Regions from separate parts of the Homo sapiens genome. Here region 1 is linked to region 2. The links come from fine-mapping of genetic effects on gene expression. A gene starts in region 2. The other region holds a variant in brackets. All regions are shown on one strand. Distances are between the middles of the regions. Region 1 overlaps LOC107986121 (a long non-coding RNA gene). Region 2 holds the start of GPR156 (G protein-coupled receptor 156).

Region 1 (4,391 bases), 230 kb after region 2:
AGAAGGAATATGACTTTTGTCTAATTCAAAGGTTGTAAAGAGGTACTTTTCATAAGGAAGATGATAAAGAAAAGAGATTTCATATGAGAAAGGATCTTGCATGGTAAATTATTGTCCTAAAGTAAAATGACTGGTTCTTTAAAAAGAGGGATATTTAGGACAAGTCAGAAAGTCCAAGCCTGTCATAGATGATCTGTGTAAATTGTGAAAAATTTGTGAAAGGGAATTTATGAAAGAAATGTTCTGCAATTTTAAAGGTTTTTAGACCTACTAAATAAATGCTTTATAGACTGCCACTTTGACTTTTAACTGTACAACTTGACTATTTTAAAGCTAGGCATGGCCTGGGGACTTACAGAGTTAGCCATTCCCCCAGGTATGCTGGAAAGAGACCTTATATGCACTTCTGTCTAGTGAATCGCTTACTTATCAGGTTTTTCGCAAAAGTAAAAGTTGTGAACAGTTAGCCATGTAACATGTTCTTGAGACTACTGGAAAAGCAGTCTTACATGTAAGGTACGCAAGGAAAGTAGAATGTGCTTTTGTTAAAAGATTGTAAGAAGGTATGGGAATGTAAGTTTTGCCTAGTTTGGAGGGTTAAAGGATTGTTTTATGTTAGATAGGATAAAGCTGAAGGTTTGAGCAAGTTGTGGAAGGTTTGTGAAAAATTAATCCTATAAAAGAAATTCTATGTGTGAAAATTACCCAAAATTAAAGGACTTTTATTCAGTTTATTCATAAACACTGGAATTAAAGCACAACATAGTTTTATTAAAGTATTAATCTGCTTTTGATTAAAGTGTTATCAGTACATGTTCCAAAATTATGTGAAACTCCTATAATTCTAATGTAACATAGTATACATTATTAGGAATAATTATAATTATGTTTAATTGTTTTGTGCCTCAGGGGTAATAAATTTCTTTGTCAATTGTGTCTTTGATTGTGGCTACCCTAAGACTTTTTGTCATTAACAGATAATTGTTGTCTTGTTTTAACCCTCTTTAAAAGGTGGTTTTATAATCAGCTATAGAACTCTAACAGGTGCTCCTAAATACAGGCTTCTGATAACTTTGAAGATTGAGACATTAGAATAGAGAAAAAACTTTCAGGACTCTTATTGGAGAGCTAAAATGTTCATGAATATCAAGCAGAACAAAAGTTAACTGCATGGACTAAACTAATAGAAGATTGAAATAATCCTTTTATGACTTTTTGCTTAAAATGTTGCTAATCCTTTGTTTTCCAAAACCAAGAAAACTTTTCTTTTGAGCTATTTACAGCTTTTAATAATTGAGTACTCCTGTAAACAAAATTCGAGCATATTTGTTTCTCTCTACCTGCTTTCTTCAAAATTTGGAAACTACTTGTGAGTATTCTTAACTTATGGCAGTATAGTTATTTGCATAAGTACAATAAGAATCTGTTGTCTTTTGCAACAGAACACAACTGGAGAAGCTGGTTATTTTACGAAGGCTTTGACTGGAATGATATGCATTCCTTTAAGGAATCAAATTTGACTTATATAGCCAATAAAAGCCCCTTGTGAAAACTGGCTTCATACCTTGTCTACACAGTCCCTGTACAGGGTTCCCAACCTGTGGTCTGTAAAGAATGCCACTTTCTAACAGGCTCAGGAGCCCCAGGTTATCTTGGGACCTCAAGGGAGAGGAATTTACCAACTCATTCAGGTATTTGATGGTATAAAACTGTGGCTGGGTTTAAGCCTTAAAAAAAGTCTTGTCTGAGATTCCTTATGGAATGAAGTTCCATCAAAGCCAATTTAAACAGGAGCCTATTAGGCAAATAATTATTCTTGCTGTGCTTTATGCAAATAATCAGGCCAAGTATAAGACAACTAAAGTTTATTTTGCAAACAAATCAGTTTTATCATGATTTTTTATAAAAATGAGGACTGGAAAGAGAAAAAGTGTGTTTCAAAAATTATGATACACCTGTTATTTTTCTATTAATAGATGCTAGTCTCATCAGTTATTTTTAAGTTTTTGCCTGCATTTTAGAGTAATCCTGCTTATTCCTGTGAACCAGCCAGTGATCTCTGGCTGCAGCTCAGAAGAAACAAAAGGGATGGGTAATGTAAAAATCTGGATCAGTATTCTAATTCTGAGCACATATTGGAATCTGCTATCAACCCCATGTACCCAAGTCTTAGTAGGCATGACTATAGCCACCAGTTACCTGGGTGTGTAGGCAGCCTCAGGGTTCTTTTTTGGGGCTGTCCTCACCCCATTATTTTGTTTTAACATTCCTCTAATTCTAATAACCTGATTTGTCTCCTCTAGCCTTTAGGCCATTGAGCTCCAGATGAACCTCAGTGAGGGATAGTGTCCTCTCAATATTCAAGAGTTACCCTTCTATGGGGGACCCCCTAGACTGCCCATCAGTGAGACACAACAGAGGCAAAATCCTGCCCCTCTCTCCCTTGGACCTGGCTGGATACCAGTTTCCCCAATCCATGGAAACAGCCTCCTGCTCTGACAACTAGCAAGAGGCCAAGACTCACAGAACCACCTACAACCCCCCAACCTCTGTCAGCAGGAAGCCATTACAGAAGGCTCACCTTCATCCATTTTCTCCAAATAACTGGGGTCTTGGACTCTTGAGGGGGGAAATGCTATAGTAGGTAGCTAGTAAGACATGAGCAGAG[C/T]GGGAGAGGGCTCCCCGCCAAACCCAACTAGGAAGCTCAGGCGACCATCAGATGAGGGTCAGGTGGTTGTTAACTGTATCTCTAAAATAATAATTGGTTGCAGCCAGTGCCAGGGAAAGGCAGTCTCCCTATAGATAGAAAAAACCTGAAACTGGTGATCAGTAGCTTCCCAATAAGATCTCAGGAGTTGGGTGAGTGAGCTCGAGCATGCCATGATGGAGTTTAACTGGTATATAACCTTCCTCTAGGAATGCTAGATTGGTAAGGGAAGAATGCCCCAAGTGAGCATGCGTACAATTCCAATAAACACATTGTGCATGTTCCTCTCCCAAGTGCTAGCAGGCCATTGCACATGTGGACAGCTCACCCCAAGAGAAGAATTAAGGGAGAAGGAACACAAAACCCCCAAAGTATGCCAGCATGTAAAAACCCCAATTCAAAGGTCAAACCATGCACCATGAAAAACAAGTGTGCACTTGTGTTGCAGATTGCCCACTTGGCCCTCTTCCAAGTGTGCTTTTTTCCTTTCATTTCTTTTGTAAAGCTTTTTTATTTTATTTTATTTTATTTTTGAGACAGAGTCTCACTCTGTCACCCAAGCTGGAGTGCAGTGGCATGATCTCAGCTCACCACAACCTCCGCCTGCTTGGTTCAAGCAATTCTCCTGTCTCTACCTCCCGAGTAGCTGGAATTACAGGCACGTGCCACCAAGCCCAGCTAATTTTTGTATTTTTAGTAGAGAAGGGTTTTCACGATGTTGGCCAAGCTGGTCTCGAACTCCTGACCTCAGGTGATCCACCTGCCTTGGCCTCCCAAAGTGCTGGGATTACAGGTGTGAGCCACCTCGCCTGGCCGTAAAGCTTTTAAATAAACTTTTACTCCTGCTCTAAGACTTGCCTCAGTCTCTCCTTCTGCCTTATGCCCCTCAGTTGAATTCTTTCTTCTCAGGAGGCAAGTATTGAGGTTGCTTCAGACCCATACAGATTCACTGCCAGTAACTCGGATACTTGCCACTGGTAACAAAAGGATTCATAGAAATTCATAGAAATGGTATCATAGAAATGATTCATAGAAATGAAAGAGGAAATGATAGATACCGGTCCCACCTTTGCACATATTCCAGCTGACATATTGCCTTCTCAATACCACACCTCTGAGAGGGCAAAAATTAATTACCTGAGTGGATTTTTTTTAATGCAGAATAAGATTGTATGTGCCTGAATTCTTATAAAACTCTATAAAGGGCTTCCATGCTTAAATAGCTATTTCCTCTAGTAGCTTTTGATTGATGGATAATTTTCTCACATTCTAACAGATGTCTCAGCCATTTCTGCCACCTGTAGCAGAAAATATTCTGCACATAACACTTTTACTAATATAATACAGTAATGAATCAATAGAAATATTACTGCACTCTGCTTTAAAGAAAAGACATCTCAAGAAAACAAGGTCAGCTCTTCCAGGGATGCTGTCTGGAAGCGCTCAGAATGTCAGTGTTTGACATATTGTCTTAGGCTTCCTACAACAGCCTCTAACAGAACTCTGCTGTACTGAACCCCTAGTAATAGAATTGTTTACCTTTACACCAAGAAGGATGGAAAAGCACCAAAATCTGCATGTGGTGTGTGCCCAGGCCGACTTTGAGGGATTTCTGCTGTGAGACCTAAAGTTCTTATGATTGGCCAGTATGAAAAAACATGTCAGCAGGGCCTAAGGTGTCCCA
Region 2 (4,391 bases):
GGCCATCATTCTGGAGAGTATGAAAAGAAACTGGAATGAGCTGAGAAAAGAAGCAGTGGCAGTGTCTGAAGGAAGAGTGTTCAGGCAGAGGGAAGAGCAAGGACGATGGTAAGCAAGAGGACGGCCATAGAATATGAGGGCACCAGACCAAATCACAAGCCCTGGTGGAGAGTTGAATGTTATTCACAGTGTGAGGGGAAGCCATTGGAGGGTGTTAAGCAGGAGAGTAATATCATCCAACTGACTGACATTTTAAGAATGGGAAAAAGAAGGCAGTTAAGGGGTCTGCTCAAGATTCTTATGGGAAAGTCAGAAGAATAAGATCCATATTTTTTTCTTAAAATGTTAATATCCTTCACACATCTATATTTGAAACACCTTCTGATTCAAGCTCTGTCCAGGACCAGATCACATATGTCTGGATTCTAAACACTGATTTTTATTAACAAGTTTGTTTTAAGATAATAAGTTTATAAAATGAGAGGTAGAAAACATCTCTGTATGTCTAAAATTTTTCATAATAAAGTACTGGAGAAAAAAAGGTGAGATAGTGATTTGCATCCTTTATCAGGCAAAATTCATCAGCAACTAAACATGAATGTTCTGATTCTCAAGACCTTTGCAAAATAAAGGCTCTGATTTTTTTTTTTCAACTAAATGTAGAACATTTCTTTCAACCCCCAAATCCACCTTTGCAGCCCAAGTCAGTCCACGTTGCACTGTTTCTGCAGCATGTCAGAGCCTCTGGCTTCTTTCCTCTCTCCCCCTTCCCCCAATTAATCTCTGAAACCTACATAAGAATGGAATAAAATGCAAATTCAAGGAGAAGGATGCAGTTTTCAGAGAAGGCCTCATCCTCCTCCTACCCTATAATGGAAATTCCCTTATGGTTAAACAACAAAAATGGAAATATTAAAACCCTCAGCTGAAAACAAACACTTAAGCACCTATTCTCCTTTCCAGAGAATCTGTTTCCCTCAATCATTATTTTTCCACTCTTTTGAGAGCCTTCTAGGCTGAAAGTTGTTTCATCTCACCCATCTTGGGTCTCTCCTAGGTCTCATTTCTGCCTTCACCAGGCTTGAAGTTCTATATCCCTAGGCTATCAGAACTTTGACTCTGACCAGGCTCAATTCTAGACTTTACTGGGGAATGGGGAGAAGCTAAAAGCTGGGGGTGGAAGAGAAGGGGAAACAGAGGGAACATTCCAGAGACAGTAGTGTCCCTGAAGGGGAATTAGGCTGGCAAAATGGGGACCAGAAAGCCACCTCTATTCCTCACAAGGGACACCTAACTCAAGCACAGCCTGCTAAAGCACTTTATTCTCCAGACTCAAATTGCCTTAACCTGTAAGCAAACGCTTCCCCAGCCATTTATCCGCAAGCGCATTTGCCCCACCTGCAGCAATGAAAGAAGCACTGTTTTTGCAAGCCGGGCTGCTACCCAGACTGCGAGGAGACATTCTGTGCAGAATTCAGCCACTGGTGGAGAAAAAGAAGTTTTTCTTTGCAGGCCTTGCTGCCTAATACAACTATATCAACAATTTCTCCCGCTGTGTAAGCCCCATCTGAAAATCTTTCCCTTTTATCTAGGATGCAAAAATGTAATGTTATCCTCCATATTCTGGTTTAAAGAACTACACCAGGAAAGACATTTTATGATAGGCTAGGGCATCATTTACCTCTAATTCAAGCATGCATGTACCTAGAAAACTAACAAAGGGGTAAGTTATGCCATGCCATGACTTCTCTTCCCAGATTTCTATCCTGAAATCTTAACAAAATTCGATTTTAAAAACCTCAAGGTTTGTATTCTTCACGAGTACATGGATACCTTGAGTTCTACCTAGAGGCCTCTAGTTTCTGACAGAGCTAACTTGGAAAGGGCTGCTTGCCAGGGTACAAGGATGTTGCAGCTTCCAGGTGACTCCCTCATGCCCAGAAGCAAGGCAGTTCAACAGACGCAGTGCAATACAATTGTCCCTTTTCAGGACTTTGCAATCTCCATGGGGGAGCCCATCGTGCCCGCCACTCTACACCCTGGGGGTGAACATGCCCTGCAAAGCAGATTCGGCGTGAGGAGACTCTGGAAAGTCTACAGGCGGTGGGAAACTGTTTCGGGATCTCTCATTTTCAGCACAGCCGGTCGCTTATTCAGCAGAAAACCCACGGCCCCATCTTCACACCAAATTACAGTACTCTCCCGTCTCTTCCACTGAAATTGCCACTCGCATCCCTGATGCGTGACCCCTGCTCACCTCAAGTTCCTATGAGAGTTTCTTTACCGGTTCCAAACAAACTGCCCAGATTCTGGAAAGGGAGAGAAAGCCCCTCCCCCTTTCCACTTTCACTTAATAATTAAGTGTTTGAAGTTTTGTGGATCCTTAAGGTCGCTGTGCTCACCTCATCAGCGTCGGACCGCCGAGAAGCGCCAAGCCCGCTGCTATGTGCAGGACGCCCACGGTCCCCCGGCGTCTCGCGCGTTCGCGGGGCTGGAAGGGGCGGGAAGGGGCGGGCCGGGGCAGAGACAGGGGCCCGCGCCCATCGCCGCGCCGGGAGCCTGGCGTGGAGGCGGCGGGACGGCGGCGCAGGCCTCTGAGGTGTGCGCGGGGCGCCGGGCGCCTCTGGCCGGGGCACTGGCTGAGCCACGCCTGCCCGCCCCTCCCTGGCGCCGCCCGCGTGGCGCGCCTCGACCCTGCTCTCCCGCGAGGGCCGGGAGGGCTCCGGGACCTTGCAGACTCCACGCGCCTCACGGCTCCTCCAGCTCCTCGGATCTTTCTCCTTGCGTCGCCGCCGAGTCCCCTGGGGCGGCCCCGCCTCCGGCCGTCTCCTCAGAGACCTTCCCTGGGGGGCGCCTTCCCCTCAGCGCCCCTTCCCGGGCCTCGAGCCAGCGGCTGCCGCAGGAGCTGGCCCCGGGGCGAGGAGCTTCAGATTCAGGTCCCTAGCCGGCCTCGGTAAGGAGACTGGAAGGATTCTCCGCGAATGCTCATTTTTATTTCTGGAGTGGCGTCGGAGTTACCAATTAGTTTTCTTATTTTATACTCTCTGGAGTTGCCAAATTCTTTACGTTGAGCTTTTGCTTATTTTATAATCAGAAAGACAAGTACGTTTCTTTTTCCAAGAATGCTTACAGGAGGCCACAAACAAGATGTTCGCACCCAGCCCACTGTCTTCCGCTTAAAAATATGTGTGAGATGTTGTGTTTAAGACACCCTCAAGGAGAAACATAGAGGGGAGACCTGGAAATGGTCTTGGGAATCCACTTAGACTTTCCATATTATATTTGTTTCATTTATTTTAAAATCTCAGACCTATTTATGTGCATTAGGACATTCCACATTTTTACAACTGCGCAGAGGAAATCTTTGGTTGTAGAGGACGGGAAGAGAGAGGCCAGGTCCGCAGACCCCACTGTGACAAGACAGTGGCTACATTCTTAACTGTTTTACACATTGTGATACCCAAAGACTTCTTTTCACAGGATTCTACTGAGGGGGAAAACAAGAGGAAGAAAGAAAGATAGACAAGGTTTTCCTCAAGGCAGTAAGCAAAAAGCTGGTTTCTCAGAAGAAAGAATTATGTCTGAGATTTTACCCAGGACTCTCCAGATCTCTCATTCTACACAGAAGGACCCTTTCATTTGGAACGTGCAGAAACTGAGGAGGACCATCTCTCTCCTCCATGGGGGCTGCCTGAGTTAAAAAGGCCTGGGTCCATCTTTTTTCCGTAGGAGAGCTGACTTCAGAGTCTAGAGCCAAATCTTCACTTCTGTGGCTCTAGATTGAGGATTTGCCCTTCTGATCTCTGTGGGGCTTTTTTTTTTTAACCTGGGAATTCCCCTGGGCTCTTCGGCTGTTATTCTCATCAACCCCTCTCTATATTCTGCAAGACATTGAAATCTTTCTCCCAGCTTGGCCCCCACCTCCAATCCCAGTATTCTCTTTTCTGAGATTGGAGTATTTCCAACCCCTCAGTTGCCAGGCACTGAAGGTTTTCATCTTCCAGGCCTGCCATGTTTACCTCTGAGATGTTTCTGGCAACTGTCCACTTCTCTGCATTCTCACACTGCTGCTCTTGATAAGCTTCGATTATCTGGGGCTGAATTGTTTCAATAATTTCCTAACTGATTTTCTTGCCTCCTATCTGTCCCCACCACCAACATAGACTTAAGAATGTCACTCTCTTGACAAAACAAGCCAACATCCTCTATCCTCTGTCCCACTCCCAAACCTGCAGTAACTTTCCTGTGCAATTGTAATACAGTGTAAACTTTCATAAGGATGGGGAGTGGCCAAGATGGCTGACCAGAAGCAGGTAATGTACATGGCTCTCACGGAGAGGAACAGAAGGGACGAGTAGATACAACACCTTCAACTGAAACATCCGGGTACT

Evidence for each region. PIP is the estimated chance that this variant, and not a neighbour inherited with it, causes the effect. A credible set is the group of variants that fine-mapping cannot tell apart.
Region 1: its variant is the best candidate, but not a certain one, in a credible set for the expression of GPR156 in gastroesophageal junction (GTEx, PIP 0.52).

Annotation. Positions count from the first base shown.
Region 1 is chr3:120,508,695-120,513,085 of GRCh38, forward strand. LOC107986121 (a long non-coding RNA gene) reads left to right here. Exons shown (of 3, transcript XR_001740868.2): 3 at 2,304-2,658. It also overlaps the pseudogene RPL34P9. Among named protein-coding and RNA genes, the nearest start is that of FSTL1, 60 kb to the left of the region's middle. The variant C/T (reference allele first, on the strand shown) is at 2,669.
Region 2 is chr3:120,282,627-120,287,017 of GRCh38, forward strand. GPR156 (G protein-coupled receptor 156) reads right to left here and starts at 2,596. Exons shown (of 10, transcript NM_153002.3): 1 at 2,403-2,596. It overlaps LOC124909418 (a long non-coding RNA gene), which reads left to right and starts at 2,530. Exons shown (of 2, transcript XR_007096029.1): 1 at 2,530-4,391.